Regions from separate parts of the Homo sapiens genome. Here region 2 is linked to region 1. The links come from fine-mapping of genetic effects on gene expression. A gene starts in region 1. The other region holds a variant in brackets. All regions are shown on one strand. Distances are from middle to middle.

Region 1 (10,007 bases):
CTCCTTAAGGAAATGGAAACACTTAGTGGAGAAGTTTAAGTCAAGTTTGCAAAAAGACTGAAAAAATGTTGATCATTTCTTGAGGAATTTAATGAAAACATATCAACCCACATTCTCCCACCCAATGCAATGATAATCATGCCATTCAATTACATAAAAAATTAAGAATGTTTACCTTAATGCAAATATTGAAAGAAACATCTGCCAAAAGCCTTAGAAAGACAGAAGTTTTATCAGCCATCATATCTAAATCATGTAAAAATATGATTTCAACTTATTTGTTACCTGTATAAAGAAGTGCATCATCTTGTACTGAGAGTTTTTTCAATCATGATACATATAAAAATCATTTCTGCCCAAAGCCATGGAACCCCATTTTAAAAGAAAAAAACTCTAGGCTCTCATTAATATTATCTCTGAGTATTCCCAGACTTTCAACCAAAGAACCCTTAAAAGCATTCCTAAGACACCGTCATCTTTCTTTAAATGGTACTTTGTACATGAATAGCCCCTAGTTTCAGCAAATTATAGTCTACTGTCCATGAGTTTCTAAACCTTTTTGAAAAATTTAGATAATTTCGGAATATATATACACACAAATATATGCATATGTATATACACACACATATCCTTAAATTCTAGCTGAAATTATTATGTATATTGCCATATACTTTGTCTCTTTTTAAATGGCTTTGGTCAATTTCAGTGAAAAAATTTCAGCTAAAATCAGCCACGTCATGTATTGAACTTTTGGTACAGATATATTTATGATAAATAAATTATTTAAGAATTTTAAAATATCACAACTACATCAGATATTTACTTTTTAAAAATATTATATTTTCTGCAGAATGCATGCAAGACGCATACCTACATTACACAATGGCAGAAAGTCTAACTTTGGTATGGGTTTTTGGTAATATTAGACAAAGATTTGTTCCATTATATAATCAAACTGTTTTTATTTCTTGTTCCCCCCAAATTACTTAATTATTACCATTAGGAAAATAAATATTATGTTTCAATTTGGAATTAGTGATAGCTCTTCTTGGTTGTTGCACAAACTGGAAATCATAAGAACTATATTTCAGGCTCGTATAATTGTCTGCATTAAGTGTGTGTTCTTTAAGATTAGATGGCTCTAACTGTTTTGGGAATTTTCTCAAAATCAACTTAATATACTGACATCAAAAGTGATGAACTGATATTATGTTAATGGTGTTATTAGGCTAACAGGAAGTTCAAATTAACTTTCAGATTTCTAACATATTCTACATTTTATTTTATTAATCTTCCAGCTCATCTTGCATATAATTAATACAAGCATATAATTAATACTATTTTTTAGTTTCAATTTCAGTCTAATATGCAAATCGTATAAATACAATGTTATTCATTTTCATATTTGTTGATTAGAACTATCTGATAATTTGACCAGATGAAATAACTAATATTCTCCATTATGAAATGAAGTTCAAAACTACTCAGCAACAACTCTCAATCATGTGGTATTTTTGTGAAATTAGTATTTTAGGATTTTCCCTATATATTAGCAGTCTTCAATTCTGACAAAAATACCTCGAGGCATAATTATCATATTTACTCTGAAACATTAATGAGATTTACTAAAATATCCTGTCAAAGGGAGAAAAAACAAAGATTGTATGAAATTGTGACATTAGACTATTTTGTGGGATAACAAAGTAAGAATTTCCTATAATATATCATGTAAGGTCTCTCCCCAATCCACTCACTATATATTGGAATTAGTTCTGATTTCCAATACACAGATATTGAATTTTTTAGAAGTATTTGAAAAACTACTCATATCCATATTTTTAGATGTTATTTCTATAATTAACATTTGTAAAGAGTCATGAAAATAAATGTCACAAACCAAGCCTAAATTTTCACATATTCCTAAGACAGTGGAGAAATGAGAAAACAAAATCTTAATTTTCTCACATGAAGGCAGCTGGCTTCCTTTTTGTACATCTTTTCATGTCTAAACTTGTTAATTCAGTTGTACATACATGTGAGGTAATTAAGTGATTGTCCCTTTGTCCTTGTAACCAAAAGGTGGCACCTCTAAAAACCAGAGTTAGCTTTCAACAGAGACACTATTTTTTTTTTTTTTTCATTTAAATGTCAAAGCCCTAGAAAGAAAATCGTTTTTCGTGACTTGGTAATTCTATTTAGGGAGAGATCATTGCCTCAAATGCAAAATGGTTTGGAAAATAGTACACATTACACTGATGGCAAATGAATTCAGCTCTTCTCTAAGTTGGTGTGTAAACTTATATATTAAACGTACGTAGTGAAAAAATACTCTCTGAGATACAAAATTAGTGTGGAAGGTCAGACACAGTTAAGATAGAAGATTCTCTTTTCTTATATCAAGTGGAGTTCTAGACAAAAAAAAGTAAGACTCTGCATTTCCCCTGATAAATAAAAAGAAGTGTTTTGTATACTAACATCTGTGGATTTCTCTGTGTTCAGGTAAGACCCACTTGGAATGCTTTCCTATTACATCAAACGAGGCATTTCTCTATACCTCCTTCCATCTGACAGTACTATCGCTTAGCTGTCCCTGAAGAATAATAAGAAAAGAAAGCTTATATCCCCAATGATGGAATTAGAGACTGCTGAAGCTGCTGTAAAGGCTCTGTCCAACAAGTACCATTTACTTGACCTATTATGCAGGCAGCCAGGGGCATGTTGGTGTTTTGATATATTTTTCTTTCTTTTAACAAGACGTTACAAAAATGTTTTCCCCTTCAGGATTTTTAAAATTTAGGGTATCTTTCTAGCATTACTTTCTAAACTTAGTTCCAGTACAGGAGGATTCTTGTCCAACTGAGCCTCCATGTGCCTTCTAAAGGGAGTGCTGAAATTGTATAAACATCATGTTTACATCCATTAAATATTGTCCTATTAAAAGAAAATAAAGCCAGGCATAAGTTTGGTATCCAGACAATAAAATGCAAATAGTACAAAGGTAGAATAAAGTGAAAATTCTACACAAATGTAGCTTCCATACAAAAGTTAAACAGTTGCTTTATTTCACGAAAGGGTTAATACTGGAGAAAGTGAATATCAACATGTACACAAAGCTAACTAGAAGATTAGCTTTCTCAAAGTAGAAATCCAAGCCTCCCTATAAAATTGTTGTCCCTTGCAAATGTTTTGAAACTTTACATTTTTTGATCCCCCAACAACAGGCCATACCAAGAAACCTCAGGAAAGTAATAATCTATTTTAATTGTTTTTTTTTTTTTGTTACTCAAGAAAGCTTTCAAAGTTCAGATATTAACACTGATGTGCAATACCAAATTGTTAGCCCCACAGGACAGATGGAAACAGGAAAAGTCAGATGGTTGGCACTCAAAAGCAAAAGCAATTAAGCAGTTGAAAGTGGGTTGGATTGTCGGTTTATTTTTGTTCCATTTGAACGAATCAAGTGAGAGACATAGACTCTTGCAAGGAGGAAATCAAGTCAAACTTGACGCTTCCTCTCTCTGACAGCCCAAGCTGGACTGGTTGTCTACTCCCCTTATTCAGTTTAATTGCTTTATGTGCTCTGATTTTCGCAGAGCTTGTATTCTATCTTGTTTACGTTCCCCCCCCCCCCCATATCCCTCTCCCCAACAGAAAGAAATCTTTCTCCTTTCTTCACTCCCCCTCTTTCCTCTAAGAAAGGCAATCCTCTCCAGGAGGAGAAAGAAACGCTGTGCGTGCTTAGGGTGGGAGGAGGGCGAGAGGGGAGGTGTGGGAGAGAAAGAGAGAAAAGATTGAGATTGGGGGTGGGGGACGGAGGAGAGAGAACAAGAGAAGGAAAGAGGAAGCAAGAAGATGGGGGATGCCCAACATCAACTCCAGGCTCTAAATCACGGGCGCTGTGCAAAGTGCTTTTCCAGGAGATGCACATGTAGTCTCATATTTCTCACAATAGGCCACCCGGGGATCCCTCCCTAGGTCTCAGACTCCCACCACTAAAACCCAAGTGTATCGAGAAGAAAATCTTTGGGATGGATTCGAGCAGATAGGCACCGCCGAGGTGGCCGCGCCGCCAGTCCCGCTTCCTTACCTGGAGGGCGGACCGGGAGGTGGTGCCGGGTCTCGGTCCCCAGTGCTCTCCCCGCGTGGACCGGCGCGAGGCACACGCGTACTCTCGCTGCCTCCGCTCTTGGAGGGGCAGCCTGCAACACAAAAGGGGTGTGTGGGTGTGGGTGTGTGGGAGGTTTTCCAGGGCCACCAGCTGGTCCCACGTGGTCGCCCCCACCCTACACACACCCCTTCGGGGCGCCAAGCCCCCCTCTCGGCTGAGCACCACCCTGGGGACTTGCCCGGGGTGCAGCCTCAAGTTGCCGCTGCTAACTGCTGCTGCCGCTGCCGCTGCTGCAGGAGGAGGTGGAAAGACACTGGGGGCAGTACTCGGTCTAGAGCATCCCCACACTGCAGCTTCTCCAGGAATCCCTCCAGTGAGGAGGCGGCCGCCCATCATCTCCGAGCCCCAGCATCCTGATTGGCTCCACCTCGGGTACGCTGCGCCAAGGAGCCAATCCCCGCGCACTAATAATAGGTGGATCCGTTCAGCCAACATCGCCCATCCCAGTTCTGTTAGTGTCTCTCCATCCCCACAGCGGACAGGGACCTGGGAAGCGGGGTGGAGGCGGGTTGGGGGAGGGGGTGAAGTAAGAGGGGAACAGATCCCAAGGAGACACAATCAAGGGCGTCTGATAAAACCTCTAGGTAGACTCAGGAATGCCCCACAAGCTGTTCAGCAAGCAGTATGCACAGGAGAAAGAGAGCATAATACAAAGCTTTTTTTTTTTTTTTTTTACTCTCAATCAAAACCTACCCTGATACTGAGCATGCCCAGACTGCAACAGCGACCTAGGAGTTTCGATGTGTGTGGGTTCGCCAGCTGTGGGTTTTTGAAAAGCTGGGACCGGGGACAGGAGAGGTAGAAGTTTGTCTTTGGCCATTTAACCCGGCGGAGTTGTGAAAGCTGGGTAGGGTGGGGATGTGAAAGGGTTCCGCACAAGTGTCCTCAAACTGAGCCGCGGGGAGGTGGCCCACCTGGCTGCCGGAGGCTCATCATGCTGTTCTTCTGGGGTTCCGGGTTGGAAGCGGGGGCGGGATAAGCTGAGCTTTGCTGGAAGCCTGGGGACTTCCCGCGAAGGGTGCGGTGGAGCCGAGATGCGGGAGAAGCAGCTCCGTCCCATAGGTGGGGCCGGGAGCGCGACTCCACCCATCAGCGGCGGCTGCCAGGCCGTGGAGAGTGCACTGGGAGTTTCCATTGCAGCGACCAATAAGTTTGTACACTTGGGTCAAGTGCAACATTGTTGGAGATGCTTTTTTATTTTTTCATTTTTATTTTTTGCCACCTCCCTCCCCCATCTCTCTCGACCCCTTGCCAGAGCAGTGACGACTAAAGCATAGATTCTCTCCCTGCTTCCTCTCTTCCCAGCTGAACCGTTCTGCTCGGAAGTAAGAAGCTTTTCTCTTGTGAGGGCGGTGGTGACCTGATTGTCTCTAAGCTCTCAGGCAATTTATAGCTTGGTAATACCGAAATACCGAACAGGAAGGCTCAGCGGGTGGGGGAAGGGACCGCGCGCCAGGCTAGGGGCGGGAGCGGAGCCCAGCTGGGAGAGGGGCCCGTCCATTATCTGCTCCACAGGTGAAAGGATTTCAAAACGGAGAGAACTATTTCCCTTTCTCCCTCCCTCAACCTCGTTTAAAGGCCTTTGAACCTCTTATTTGTTTTATTTAGAAATCCTAGCATTTTGTGTAAACTTGATCAATAGCTACAAATGAGAACTCTCCTAATTGGGTTCTTTATTTTACTGAGAAGATTATCTTGGCATCTCAGGTAGGGAAATAAATAGCTATCTCAATTCCCCAAACCCATCCACTTTGAACTGGAGTTTTATTAACATTGGTGTGCAAAGGTAAATGTAGCAAGAATTCAATTAACAGTAACACATTTCTTCAAGTTTTTAATTAAATCTCTTCTACTTATGTAATGTTTAAGATTAAGATCCTTATTCTAAGTATACGGGAAAAGAAGGCAACGTGATATAAATATATCCTTCTAAGTGACAAACACTTGTATTTGGGCTATGCTTGAATAATAGGAAGTTTAACATTAGAGGTAGAAGTGTGAAAATAATGCACCCCAGACTTGTGACTTCATGTAAATATTCACTTTCCATTTTCCAAAATAGTCTCCAAACCTTATTTTAAAATCATTTCATAGTTGGAGAAATAAGATAAAAGAATTTGGTCTAAATTTTATTTCAGTTATTTAGTGAAGGAGAGGAGGAGGAGAAGACAGAGAAGGAAGAAAAACGACAGGATAAAAAGTAGAAGAAGTTGGAGGAGGAGGAAGGGGAGGAGAAGGAGGATGGTGAGGTGGAGGAAAAGGAGAAGAAGGAGGAAGAGAAGACGAAGAAGAATTAAGTAACCCTGTAATTTTGTTGTCCAATAAATATCTTTGGATGAGAAGATTATTATAATATCCACTTAATATAGATCTTTATTCTAAATATATGCCTAGCATACTTTCTAGATTCCAGTGATTAAAACTGGCACATTTATCCTATTTACCAATAGCTGCATGTAGAAAAAAAGTATGCTTATTTTAGAATAAATTAGTCAATAGAATACAAATACAGATTTTAAAATTTTTGCTCCAGACACTGATTTTGTCATTAATATTTTAGTCAATTTCTTTTCCTGTTTACTTCACATCTTACCTAGCAATCTTTCTATTTCAGTGGCCAGAATCCTTGGCAACATGAATGGTATCAGAAGTTTGTAACCCAATGTTCCTTGAGGGAGACTGCAGGTTAAAATAAGAAATGGGCTTTACATGTATATTGTGCTTAACTTTAGAATTGATAACATTTTCTGTACATAAATAATAAGAAGACTCTATTTATATGGTGACTGTAGCTATACTAAGATTTTAACTCTCCCTCCTATTCCTAAATTCTCTCCAAGCTCTTGGGAATGTGTTGAAGACGTCCTCCTGGATCTACTGGGCTGACACAACATTATACTTTGCCGCAAGTGTGTATCATCTCTTTGCCTATTGAAGCAGACTCATTTTTATTAAAAGGAAGATCGGGTCAATTGTTCTGTAGAGACAAAGAGAGAGCTCTTTGTCACTCTTATCATTCCATTTCTTAAGTACTTTTACATCTAGAGTACTTTTGCTGTTGAGAATTAACTTATCCCCTGATTGTATGGTATTTTAAAAATATTATTTTCAGAACTTTTACAAAATCTGTTTAATGTTTTGTTTCCTCTTTCTTCGTTAAAAAAGTGTTATTAATTTTTCTTCACATTTTGCTCTGATCAAGATCTCATTTTCAATATTTTCTTTATTCCTTTTTTATTGGATTCATCTATTTACTACTTTCATGCTTCCTTTGCCATCTATTTTAGGCTACAGGATCAGAATAGAAACTAAATTGGATTGGGGCACTGAGGAGGAAAGTGTGTCTTATGGCAAGAGTGGGAATTAGGGACATTAGAACTAGAAATTCATTAAGTGGAAACTTAGCCAAGGTTTCTGTAAACCACAGAAAGAATACTTAACGTGAGAGAGGTATCAAGAAAATTCTGCAGGTTGTTGGAAAGGCCAGAATTACCTGGTTGATCAATGATACTAAAGAGTTACATTTAATCCGGCTGGGCGCGGTGGCTCACGCCTGTAATCCCAGCACTTTGGGAGGCCGAGGTGGGCGGATCACGAGGTCAGGAGATGGAGACCATCTGGCTAACACAGTGAAACCCCGTCTCTACTAAAAATACAAAAAATTAGCCCGTCGTGGTGGCGGGCGCCTGTAGTCCCAGCTACTCAGGAGGCTGAGGCAGGAGAATGGCGTGAACCCGAGAGGCGGAGCTTGCAGTGAGCCGAGATCCCGCCACTGCACTTCAGCCAGGGTGACAAGTGCGAGACTGTCTCAAAATAAATAAATAATAAAAAAAGAGTTACATTTAATTAAGACTCATACATCATTAAACTTTATATCTTTAGTAGCCACAGTAGTTGTCTGGTAAAAGCTATTTATAAATATCATTACCCAGGATTGTTTCTTTAAAAAAGAAAAATAATTGACTTCTCTAAATTTTTCTATTTTTTTGTTTATTTTTTATATAGATGCAGATCTTACTATTCTTTTCACTTTATATCTGTGTTTCTCAAGATACTGACTTTTTGGTCTCTTTGCAGGACAGATAATTAATTAAATGTTTTCTGGTGTCAGAATTTGGGTAGAATTCCAGCTTCACCACTAATTGGCTATGCCACCTTGAAAAATGTACAAAACCCCTCCAAGTCTCAGTTTTGTCATCTAAAATATGTACATAAGAATACAACATTTATCATTAGGTTTTTTTTCTGGATTAAAAAAAGCAGTGCACATAAAGTGCTAGTTCCAAGCACATAGCAAGAACTTAATGACTATTATTATCATTTTATCATTATCATTGCTGCTACTTCTGCTACTACTATTTTTTTTTTCCAGATTTCTGGGTTATTGGGTTTCCTCCCATCATCTCATCCATTTAAGCCAATAGTGAGCCATAGACTCCTCACCTATGAGCATTAAAGGTAGAAGGGTGTTAATTCATGTTATAAGAACTTTTATTTATTTTTTGATGGGAGGAGTCAGTGTCTAACTCTGTAGCCCATGCTAGAGCGCAGTGACTCAATCATGGCTCACTGCATCCTCCAATTCCTAGGCTCAGGTGATTCTCTCAGCTTAGTCTCTTTAGTAGCTGGGACTACAGGTGCATGCCACAATGTTGGGCTAATTTTTTTTTTCTTTCTTTCTTTTTTTTTTTTTTTTTTTGCCATATTGCCCAGGCTGGTCTTGAACTCCTGGGCTCAAGTGATCCTTCCACCTTGACCTCCCAAAGTGCTGAGATTACACGTATGAGTCACCGCGCCTGGATACAGAACTTTTTTAATACGTAAAATGACAACAGTCATCTGTCTTGCATGTAGTAGTCTTACACTGTAATCATCTACGAGATGAATAATTTAGTTTTTAGGGATGGATACTTAAGCTTTTTTTTCATAAAAACATTTGTTTATATTATTCTTTCAAATTAAGAAATATCCAATTCTGGTGGCAAAAAAAAAAATGATGAACACTATTTTGTTTTGTTTTGTTTTGTTTTCTAGAAAATGCTCTTGAAGACAGTAGAGCCATCATTTTTATTTCTCTTCCATTCATCTTTCTCAAGATCATTTGTCCTGGGATTACTGCTAGTGATTTTGTAACCAATTGGTAAAGAAAAAACATGAAGGCTCCTTGTATCAGAATTAGATTAGAAATTAGCTGTGTTGATTTTTATACTGAACATCCATGGAATTTAATAAAGAGACTCTAGAAATGGGAGAAGAAAAAAAATGAATACTGATGGGAGTCAAGTCTCTGGAGCAGAGAGTTAGAGCCCCATAATTGAACGATGAAACTTCACAATTTCCAAAGAAAGGAAAACAAAGAGCTAGTAGTTTTCTATGTGGCTTTACAAAAGCCTTTTCTTAAAGATGTGGCTAAGAAAGTATTGGAAATGAAAAGGAGGACAGTTACTCAAAAAGTAATATACTGTGTCAGGCTGTTGAGGTTAGCAAGGAAAATATCATTTAGGTGAATCTATCTCAGGGGCAAAATAAAAGTAGTTTGAGCTAATGTTAGCTAAAGGTCTTAGAAAGGAAACAAATGATATATGTTTCAAATACTCTATGATAAAAGGAATATACCGTGGTGAAAACTAGTTTGCTAATAAAGCAAGGGCAACATTAAAGTTTACATTAATTCCCTTTGAAATCAGAGGAAGGATTTCTATCTAATTGAACACACAGAGAATTATAGTTCAGCTGCTTCATTCAACTTATTTGAAAAGTGTGTCCAGAGAGACTAATCGAGTTACCAAAAGCCATAGAGGGTTGAGTGTGAGTGGGAGAAGAGTCTGTGTTTTCAACA
Region 2 (10,007 bases), 230 kb after region 1:
CAGATTTTCCATCCCTCGGTTTAATTCTCAGAAATGAGAATTGGTGATAACATATGCAATAATAGTAAATGTGACTTTATGTTGCTAAACTAACACTGTATTATATGTATTTAAAATCAGATAGATCTATATTTGGGGATAATTTCCATAGTGGTATGTATTTATGTGGAAATGCATGTATATACGTATCTACGTATATACACAGGTATGTATGTTTACATACATATATATCTACTATACATATGCGTGTGTAGGGAAAGAGAGAGAAAATATATACAACGCATATTTTATAAAGTATGTGGGGAATAAGAGGAGAAAATAGGAAAGTATTGTGGAACAAGCCAAACATTGACTAAGAGTGTCAATGGAATAAGCACTATTATATTGGCAAATTCATTAATTGTATTTATAATTTTGTTTTTCATTTTAACCAAACTCACAAAGCATTTATTGAAATTAACACACCTGGCCAAGCACAGGACTTGAATCAAGCAGCATCAATGCTTTAATAAAAGCAAATTAAAAAACTCAAGATGTAGAAGCAGTAGCCGTATCAGCAACCATTCTTCTAGGGATTCTTTTAGGGAAGGGACATATACAATCCTTCCCCAAGAACTTTGATGCTACCCCTCTGAAGAGTTTAAGCACAAAACAGAGTGCTTGTATCATATAAGCAAGGACCTTTACAGAGGAAAACTGTCATATAAATGCATTTTTTTTTTGCTTTTAAAGGATACTGCAGTAGAAATATATTAAGCAAGGCCTCAAATATCCAACATTTTCCCATATTGCATTTTAAACCAAAGTTATAAGAACCTGCAGTCTTTATAAAGAACTCTCTTCACAGCACAGCTGTAGTTCACTTTAAATAAAAAATGTTCCCTTTGTGCTATATCCTTAGAAGTGAACATAATATACAGATAAATGTGAAGTTTAGATTCTGCATCAAGCCTTATTCAATCTCACCTTCTGATATAAACCTGGATACAGTCAAATTTGCAAAGCATTCACTTAATATTTTAGTTGAAGCAACCTTAAAATATATATGGATTGTCAGTGAAGGAGACCTTTGTGAGTTTCAGTGTATTTATAATTTATATGTAGGCATTTTATCAATTTCTGTACCTATATTTGTTAGGTATTTATTAAGCTGATAAATCTTTTGGTTCTAATAGATAAAAGATGTAAATCATTCTTGCCTTTCAGAAGCCCGTATTTATATAACTATGACTTTTATGCATTCATCTCCATAACTAGGATAATTATAAAATAAACAAATTAATGTCTCACATTAGTGGTATAGACAAATAATGTCACTGAAATTGGGAAGGGAGATAATTGTGAGATGTGGTAGTACTGAAAAGCCCTTATAGAGCACAGGCTTTGAAATATAAATAGCATAGATTAAATTTATATTAGAGAAGGGGAATATTATTTTAGGTGGTGCAGAACACTGAGAACAGGAAATGTGTACAAAATTTCAAGTGGGGCTAATGTGGGAGATAATAATTTTGAAAAGTAGATTGGAGTCTAATTAGAAAAAGAACTTTGAATATCAGATAACAAAATTTCAACTTGATTCTATATCCAATGCAGAAGCAATTTTTGACCAAAGATGAAACAAGATGAAACCTATAAAATTACTTTAGCAGAGACTTTTAAATGATGGAGCCAGAGGTGTAGAAGGCAGAAACCAATTTGGTATGAGGGAGTCTGAGCTCAGTTAAGATTGATTCAAGTAGTGTAATGACAATACCAGCGGAAATTTAAAAAAAAATGTGCCCCTGGGTCTAATGAAACTATAACATCTGGCATTTTATTTACTTTACACGAATTTACTACAATGATCCAGGGAATACTCTACGCATTGGCATTTTACTTGCATTTATGTTTCACCTTACCAAGAAAAAAAAAAACCTTGCAAAATGATTGAGACACTTACCTGAAATGTCTAGCATAACACAATAGGTGATGAAGGAAAATCAACTCTAAAATAACAAACACAGTTTGGAATCAAACAAATTAGAAAAATGATGAGATAAGTATATTTTTAAATGATTATTTAAAGATGGACTTATCAGAGCCTTTAAGATGCTATTGTGTGTAGTGAATCTCCACACCCTGAGTGCTTCTGGCTCGGAGACTGTATTATTTCCTTTGTCTAAGATGTTCTTTGCTTAGGCTCATTTCCTGACCTCGTTCATTTCATTCAGGACTTAAATGTAATCTTATTGTACAAACATCTCATAATTCCTTTGAATGTTGTACTTCAAATAAATGGTTTTATCATCTCATAAGAGTCATACACTACAGATAACTTCTTCCCTACTACAATTTTAGTGGCACCTCAAAAATGCTTGTTTAAGGTTTGTTTCTTCCAGTTTTTTGTAATAATCAATCATACACCTATGTAACAACATTTAGTACCTTTTTAGTGCCAAATTCCTCGGTTTAGCCTATATACATCTTATTCTTACTTTCATGGTTTGTAGTTGCTTGTATTTTCTATATACATATTTTCCAAGGAAATTATATCACATCTCCTAAGTTCCTGAAGCAACCAAGTTTTGTTTCTTGCTTATATCACTGAATATACTTACAACCATTAATTAAATGGAAGCAGGATGTGCTATACATACATTCTGTAATTCACCTAATGACAGTGAATGATTTAACAGGACTCCACTAATTCTGTTTTTTTTTTTTTTGGACCTTTAAAAATTTCTCTAAAAAGCCAAACTGCTTGCAGAGCTGTGAGTCCAAATGTATTCTTGATACCAAATGCTCTTTGAAACTTATGAAAATAATTGAAAGATAGTGATGGTGCTCTTTAGTTTTTACTGTATGGCAAACATCACATTTCTCTTTCACACTATTTGCTCAAGAAGCATAGTGATTCTGGAACAATATAGGAATAAGAAGGTCAAAATAGAAATATGTAGACTAAACATTCATGTAGTGCGGTAGTTACTCCAGAAGATATTCAGCCAGGGTTTTTCTGGAGATGAAAAAAGATAATGGTATACTGGTAGGTCTTATAACACTAATGAAAAGAAGATTAAAACATTTAGCAGATCTTTTCTCTTTCTTTTGTATCTATTATTCCAAAAATTTTCAGACAAGGGGAAATATATAAATATGGTGAATGCATTAGCCAGTTTATAGAGTTGAAGGTCTCTGTGTAATACTCTCTTATTTATACTTTATTCCACAGAAGAAAGCACCAACCTAACTTTTTATGTGTAATTCTTTGGCACTTTATTTATATCCCTAAACAATAATGTTTTTACTTAATATCATTTGTGAAATTCATCAATGATTATAGGTCATTTAGTTGCACTCCTATATGGTATTTTATTATGTAAATATGGTATATTTTTCTTTTTTGAAGCAGGGTCTCGCTCTGTCACCCAGGAGGGAGTGCTGTGGTACAATCATGGCTCATTGCAGTCTAATCTTCCTGAGCTCAAGCAATCCTCCTCCATCATTTTTTTATTTTTTCGTAGAGACAAGGTCTCACTATGTTGCCCAAGTCTCAAGCCCCTGGGCTCAAGCAATCCTCTCACCTAGGCCTCCTAAAGTGCTGGGATACAGGTGTGAGCCATTATTCCCAGCCAAATATGGTATAATTTATAATGACTATTATAAAATTACAACTATGCATCTCACCTTGTTCAAGAGTCTCTCCAAACTACAAACCTAAAAGTGTGATTTCATAGGCCATATGCACTTTTTATTTACCAGAGAGTGTACAGTCAATTTTCTCTCTAAGGAGGATATACCAAATATATTCCTGTCAGCAATGTAATTTTAATGTATCCATGCTTTTGAATGATGAAACTTTTTTTCAACAAATCCAGTATAAAACTATACATTACTGTGGTTTTAACTTGGATCTTCTTTGTTATTAGTGAAATTAATCTTTTCATATTTTTGGGTTTGGGGGCAGTGTCTTTCACTTTTTTGCTCAAATTCCACTGCATTTTTATATTTTTCTTATTAATTTGGAGATAGTGTTTATAAAGTCTATGCACTAAATCTTTGTCCATTACATTGAACATCATCCAATGTACCTGGAATGTAAAATTCAATGTAGGATCTGTTGCAACATTTTTTTTTCTCTGTCTGCCTTGTTATTGTCACATTTTATAAATAGAAATTTTTAATCCTTGTGCAGCAAAATGTACCTATCTTTCTTTCGTGGTTACTGGTTCTTGTATCTTAAGAAATCCTTTCCTAACAAAAGCCATTGTACAATTTTTCTGTAAATTTTGTTTTTATTAATATTTTAATCAATCTGTAATTTTGATACATGTGTGTCGGTGTGTATGTGTGTAGTGCAAGGTAAGAAGCTCGTCTATTATATTTTCTTTTTCCTTTTGAGCAACATTTACTCATGTCTTTTTTTCTTGATCATTGTCAAAATTCATTTATTATGGTAGTCTTTATAAAAAAATAAAGTTATGGTTTTATTTCTAATATCTGCTTTTATCTTCATTTTTCCAGTTCTTCCATTTTATTTGGATTTATTTCATAGCTCACTGCAGTCTTTAATCTTAGGGTCAAGGGCTCCTCCCACATCAGCCTCCTGCACACCAAAGGCTACAGGTGTATCACCATGCAGCCAATTTCTTAAATTTTTAAAATTTTTGTAGAGACAGGGTCTCACTATGTTGCCCAGTTTGGTCTCCACCTTATGACCTCAAGTTATCCTCCCACCTTGGCTTCCCAAAGTGCTGGGATTATGGGTGTGCGCCCCCAAACTTGGGCTGTTTCTAAGTGCTTTGGCTTAATGTTTATCTCACAATTTTATTCAATGCAAGTGGTTAAGGTGTGTGTTTTCTTTCACTTTAGTTATTTTTCAGAGTTTTGCTATATATAATTGTATAGTTCAAAATATTTCCTGTCATAAGACTTATTCTTTAGAGTGTGTTTTTAAATTTCCAGTTGTTCTTTTTAAATTGCTTGTATTATTTTCTAAATTATTATATTCTTCTTAGAGAGTGTTCTGCATTGTTCCAAGTGTACTTGAGAGGAATACGTGTTCATAATTGTTAGGTAAAGTTCCTTTTTTTTTTTTTTTGCTTTGCTTTTTTATGTTCTATGTAATTTCTTCATTTTGATTTTCCAGTTCACTAATTTCATCTTCAGCTGGGTCGCACACATTTTATGTATTCATTACATTTTAATTTCCAAAATTATAGATTTTATTACTACAAATTCTCTTTTGTTCTTTTCAGATCCATCTGCTTATGTTTATAGTTTCTTCTTTTTTATGTCTATATTTAATTTATGTTTAATATTTTTTCTGATGTTCCCAATTATATGATATTTTTGCAGGTTTAATTACACTATCTGATGTTTCTGATGACTCCTTTCATAGTGGGCTGTTTCTTTATGTTCTCTGTAATTTTGGGTTGTGAATCCATGTTTCATGGGACTTTGTGTAAATTCTTTGAGACCTGGCATGTAGGTATATCCCTTGAGAAAAGATTTCCTTTAACTTCTGCCACATCTCTGGGGGCTACTAAATTGTAACCACTATAATTTATTTATTTTTCTAATTTTATGTACTTAGTAGGTAATATAAATGCAAACTTCAAGCTTGCAG[A/C]AGAGTAGTACTATGGGTTTTAATTCAGATAATTTTTTTTTCATGTTGCAGATTACACAGACTTTTTCCTTGTCAGCTTATTTAAGGCAATAAATAGATTTGTTTCTCAATCCTCCATTGCACTGTGACTCTGGTCTTTCAAGAGCCCCAGGGACCTCAGTGCTTTATTCTCCTTGCATAGGTGCAGTGCTTTTTTTTTGTTTAGTTTTTGTTTTTATTTTGACTCTGAGTGAACTTTAGAGGCCAAGGTTCTAGATTTCTGAGATTTGTAATGACCCATGGGGCAGATGCAGGTTCAGTTCAAAATGACCACTCTGGTTTCCTGACTCTTCTTTGATTTTGCCCCCTGGGCATTTTTTCTCTTATTTTCCTATGAACTCAACTGTGTATCTGAAAGATTGTTATATTTCTAAATAGTTTATAAAGGAAAAATATTTTTTAGAAGAGTAACCTGCCATAATACTGGTGGAAAAACACCTCTCTTTTAAAAATTCTCTCAATCTGGGCTTTAGACCTAACATTTATTTATGAGAATAAAATAAAAACATTTTTACTGTAATACAAATTTTTTTCTTTGTGGTATCTACAACTTTTAATTTTGTATTGAATAATTTTATCAATAATTTATTTTTTATGTAATACAAATGTTAATAACAACAATACAATAATAGCAAATCTACCATGCTTCCAAGCTGATAGGTTCCTCCCTTTGAACAAACAAATAAACAAATAATTTATTAATTCATTATGTTTTCTTTATTATCTATTTTGATCTCTCTAGAATCAAGGATAAGTTACCAGAATATTATAAATTTACTTTCTTAGGAAATAATCTTCCTCTCCAATAATTTGCTTATATGCTCTGTTAATGATTGATTTTCTAATTGCATTTGTCTGCTTGATGTACTTCTGAGATGATTTTACTCTTACATCCACCAAGTTGTATAGTAAATCTACCTTAAGTAACATCTTCAATATTAGTTAATCAAATGCCTAATTGGATTCTGTACCTAACACCTAATAAACTAATAAAAGTAAGATTGGCAATGTTGCAAATGATAAGAATTAAACTGGTTTCATTTGCTTATTTTTTTAAAGACCACTAGTATAACTATTTTTTATTTCCTTGATTTTAGACAGTCTAGCCAATGTGACAAAGAGGTGGAAGTAAAAACTTCCCATCTTCAGGCATGAAAAAATTTTACTGGACAGAGTGACCCTTTTCAGCCCTTAACCTACTTAACAAATCATAAAGATGCTTGGAGTATTATATTTGACTATCAATTATTCTACCAGTATATTTCATGTAAGAAATCTAAAAGTATGTTGATTTAGAGGTATAGCGTTAATTCAAATGGACATCTATTTTAGTGGTAGAGGGAAAAATATCAAGTTGAGTTAGTAGAAAAAAGTCATACAAATGAAATCAAAGGAAACAATACAGGTCAACCAAAATATTATAAGGAAAGGGCAAAGTAAATTACCCCAAAATTATCTATTACTATTGAAATAATAGAACAAACAAATCATCAGTTAGCCAAGTAATGTTAAGGTTGTAGTTAATGCTAAAGTAAGCAGCTACAACTTTTAGTTGACTCAGCAATTGGGCTCCTCACTATTTCAAATATATTATAAGAAGAATACACACATAAAACTGAGGAATATGATTGCTTCTACCGCTTAGGGCAAGCATTGCCAAATGGTGGCTCATGAGAAAAATCTAGCCTACTGCTTGTTTTTGTAAATAAAGGCTTTTTGAAACACAGCCACTCTCATTCATTTATGTATTGTCTATTGAAGCTTTCACATTACAGTGGCTGAATTGGATAGTTGTGACAGAGACCACCTGGCATGCAAAGTGTAAAATATTTACTATTTAGTCCTTTGCAGAAAATGTTTGCCAACTTCTGGCTTAGGGAAAGCCTGTGCAAGAGTTTGGGAAGATTTTTACTTTTAGGTGAAGACAAGTTATTTATAAAATAGTTTAATTATACTGATTTGATAAAAAATGATTTGATGGCTACTAACACTTTTTGAATTTATTGTTGATAATAAACATTTAGTCTTGTGTTCTCCACATTAACATTATTGTCATGGGGGAAGTCTGTCCTCAAAAAGCGGGGAGTTATGAGGGGTAGTTATGTTATTTGGCTCTAATGTCATAAGCTGGCTTCAAGTTCTGTTAGGCTGGACAATATTTAAACTGACACATATGGAAAACTTTTGCATCTTCTTCAGGAAATTCCCCTTTGCTGGGGCCATCTCATCTGCATTTCTTTTGATGCAAACGATATCCCATCAGCTCATTTTTTAGTGTTTTGTAGTATAGTCAGTAGATCTCTACAATGCTGAGTTTCACATCTTCCTTTTTGTACAGGATCAAATACAACCCATGCCACTGTGCTCATTCATATGGCTACAATTGGTCTATTCATTATTTTCCACAACATAATGGCAGCAGCAACTTCTACTTCACCTCTGCCATCATTTAAGGCATCTCTAGCTTTTGAGATTTTCCAAATGAGATTCAGGAGACAAATGTTTCTTGAGTTAATTCTTTCTTCCTAGAAGAAAGCCATTCTTTCTTCCTAGGCTTTTGGTGAGAGGCTAATGGCCCTACCCTTTTTTCTTCAGGGAGTAGGGCTCACAGCACAGTTCACAAGAAAGACATCCTCTTTCCAAAATAACCTCCTTACCCTCAATCACTTTATACCCTTGGTGTATGTGAGGAGTTTAATAGTATTCTACTAGTTCTTGAAAAATATTTTTGAAAGTTATACATAATAATCTATCTCAATAAGTCTGGTAGCTGATATCTATCAAATTGTGGTGGCTCTGACAAAAATGGATGAGGCTCATTTAAACATACCATTTCATTGACTTAACTATGTGGCACAGCAAGTGTCAATCAAGAGCTTCAATTTATCCCCATGGCTGCCGCTGATTAGTTAGGATGTACCTCTGACCTGGCTATGTTCTTCTTTGAAAAGTACCTATGATATAGTTTTATCTTGAGGATTTAGTGAGATAACATATGTGAAAACTTCTTCTGTAGTGCTCAGTAAAGAGAACAGATTTTAAAAATACACACTTCCTTCCCTAATTCACATAATGATCTATACAGCATTTTATCAGAAGTCGCAAATTCACAACTTGTAGTCTGAATTCTCTGTGTAATTATACCTAGCTGTAGCATAGACTTGAAATTCAGTTTTTAGAAGGTCTTAACATTCCAGGTCACCCATTTCTACCAACATGCCTCATACATTTTCTTTATCTGTCTAACCCAGATAGACATTTACACTTGAAAATTGTGTCCTATAAAATAAGATTCAAAATTCCTTTTCTCTCTTTTCTCTAATAAAATCACCATAGCATCGGACTTAAATACATAGCTTGGGTCCCTGAAATGCTACAGTGACAACCTGCTCCTGGCTCCTCGTGGCCTCATTTCTTAACTCCATCTTTTACTCTGCTCTGGCCACATTGGCCCCTGCTATTATGTGAACACAAAAAGGCAGCACGACTTCAGGATTTTTCAATTGCTAGTCCTTCTCAATAGAACACATTTGCCCCAGATATCTGCCTAGTTTGACCCAACACTACTTTAAGTTCTTGCTGAAACAGAAGCATTGCATCCATGGAGAGGCTTCTCTGACCACACTATTTAGTATAATTCTTGCTGCTATGCTCTCTCTCAATAAGCTGCTTTATTTTTCTTTATACTAGTTATTATGACTTTGACTTATGTTCACTTATTTATTTATTATTGCCTATGGTCCCCAGTAGAACATAGTTCTAGAAAAACCAGCTCTTATGGCCAGCACCTGGAACAGTTCATGGTACCTTCTAAGCACTCAATGTATATTTGTTCATAAACCATAATTAGGAACACAGTAGTAAATACTATAGAACCAGTTAGGGTATATGGTGACTATAATGGTGTGGCAGTGGTGGAGGGGCTTTAATTTATGAGTCTGTATTTAAGTAATATAAATTCAAAAGATGAGTCCTGGACATAGTTACCTCCTTAAATTTTAATGAGGCTTAAAGTAAGGAAAAGTAGAAAACTTTTAACTTCTGTTATACTTCATTGTATATGTCAACTTGGTAGAGCCATAGATTTTGGTCAAACATTGTTCTGGATGTTTCTATGAGACTGTTTTTTGGGTGAGATTGGTAAACTTTAAATACAGCAGATTGTCCTCCACAATACGGGAACTCTAGTCCGCCCTGCAGATTTTAGACGTGCCAGTCACCATAATTACGTGAGCCAATACCTAAATCTCTCTCTCTCTCATATATATGGGTGTGTGTATATATATGTATTATATATTATATAATATATAATACGTATTATATAATATATTATATATAATACGTATTATATATAATA

What was found. PIP is the estimated chance that this variant, and not a neighbour inherited with it, causes the effect.
Region 2: its variant is the best candidate, but not a certain one, in a credible set for the expression of SYT1 in T cells (TOPMed, PIP 0.51).

Annotation. Positions count from the first base shown.
Region 1 is chr12:78,859,190-78,869,196 of GRCh38, reverse strand. SYT1 (synaptotagmin 1) reads right to left here and starts at 4,423. Exons shown (of 11, transcript NM_005639.3): 1 at 4,088-4,423. RefSeq lists a silencer at 5,580-5,639.
Region 2 is chr12:78,626,093-78,636,099 of GRCh38, reverse strand. No RefSeq gene overlaps it. Among named protein-coding and RNA genes, the nearest start is that of SYT1, 230 kb to the left of the region's middle. The variant A/C (reference allele first, on the strand shown) is at 5,612.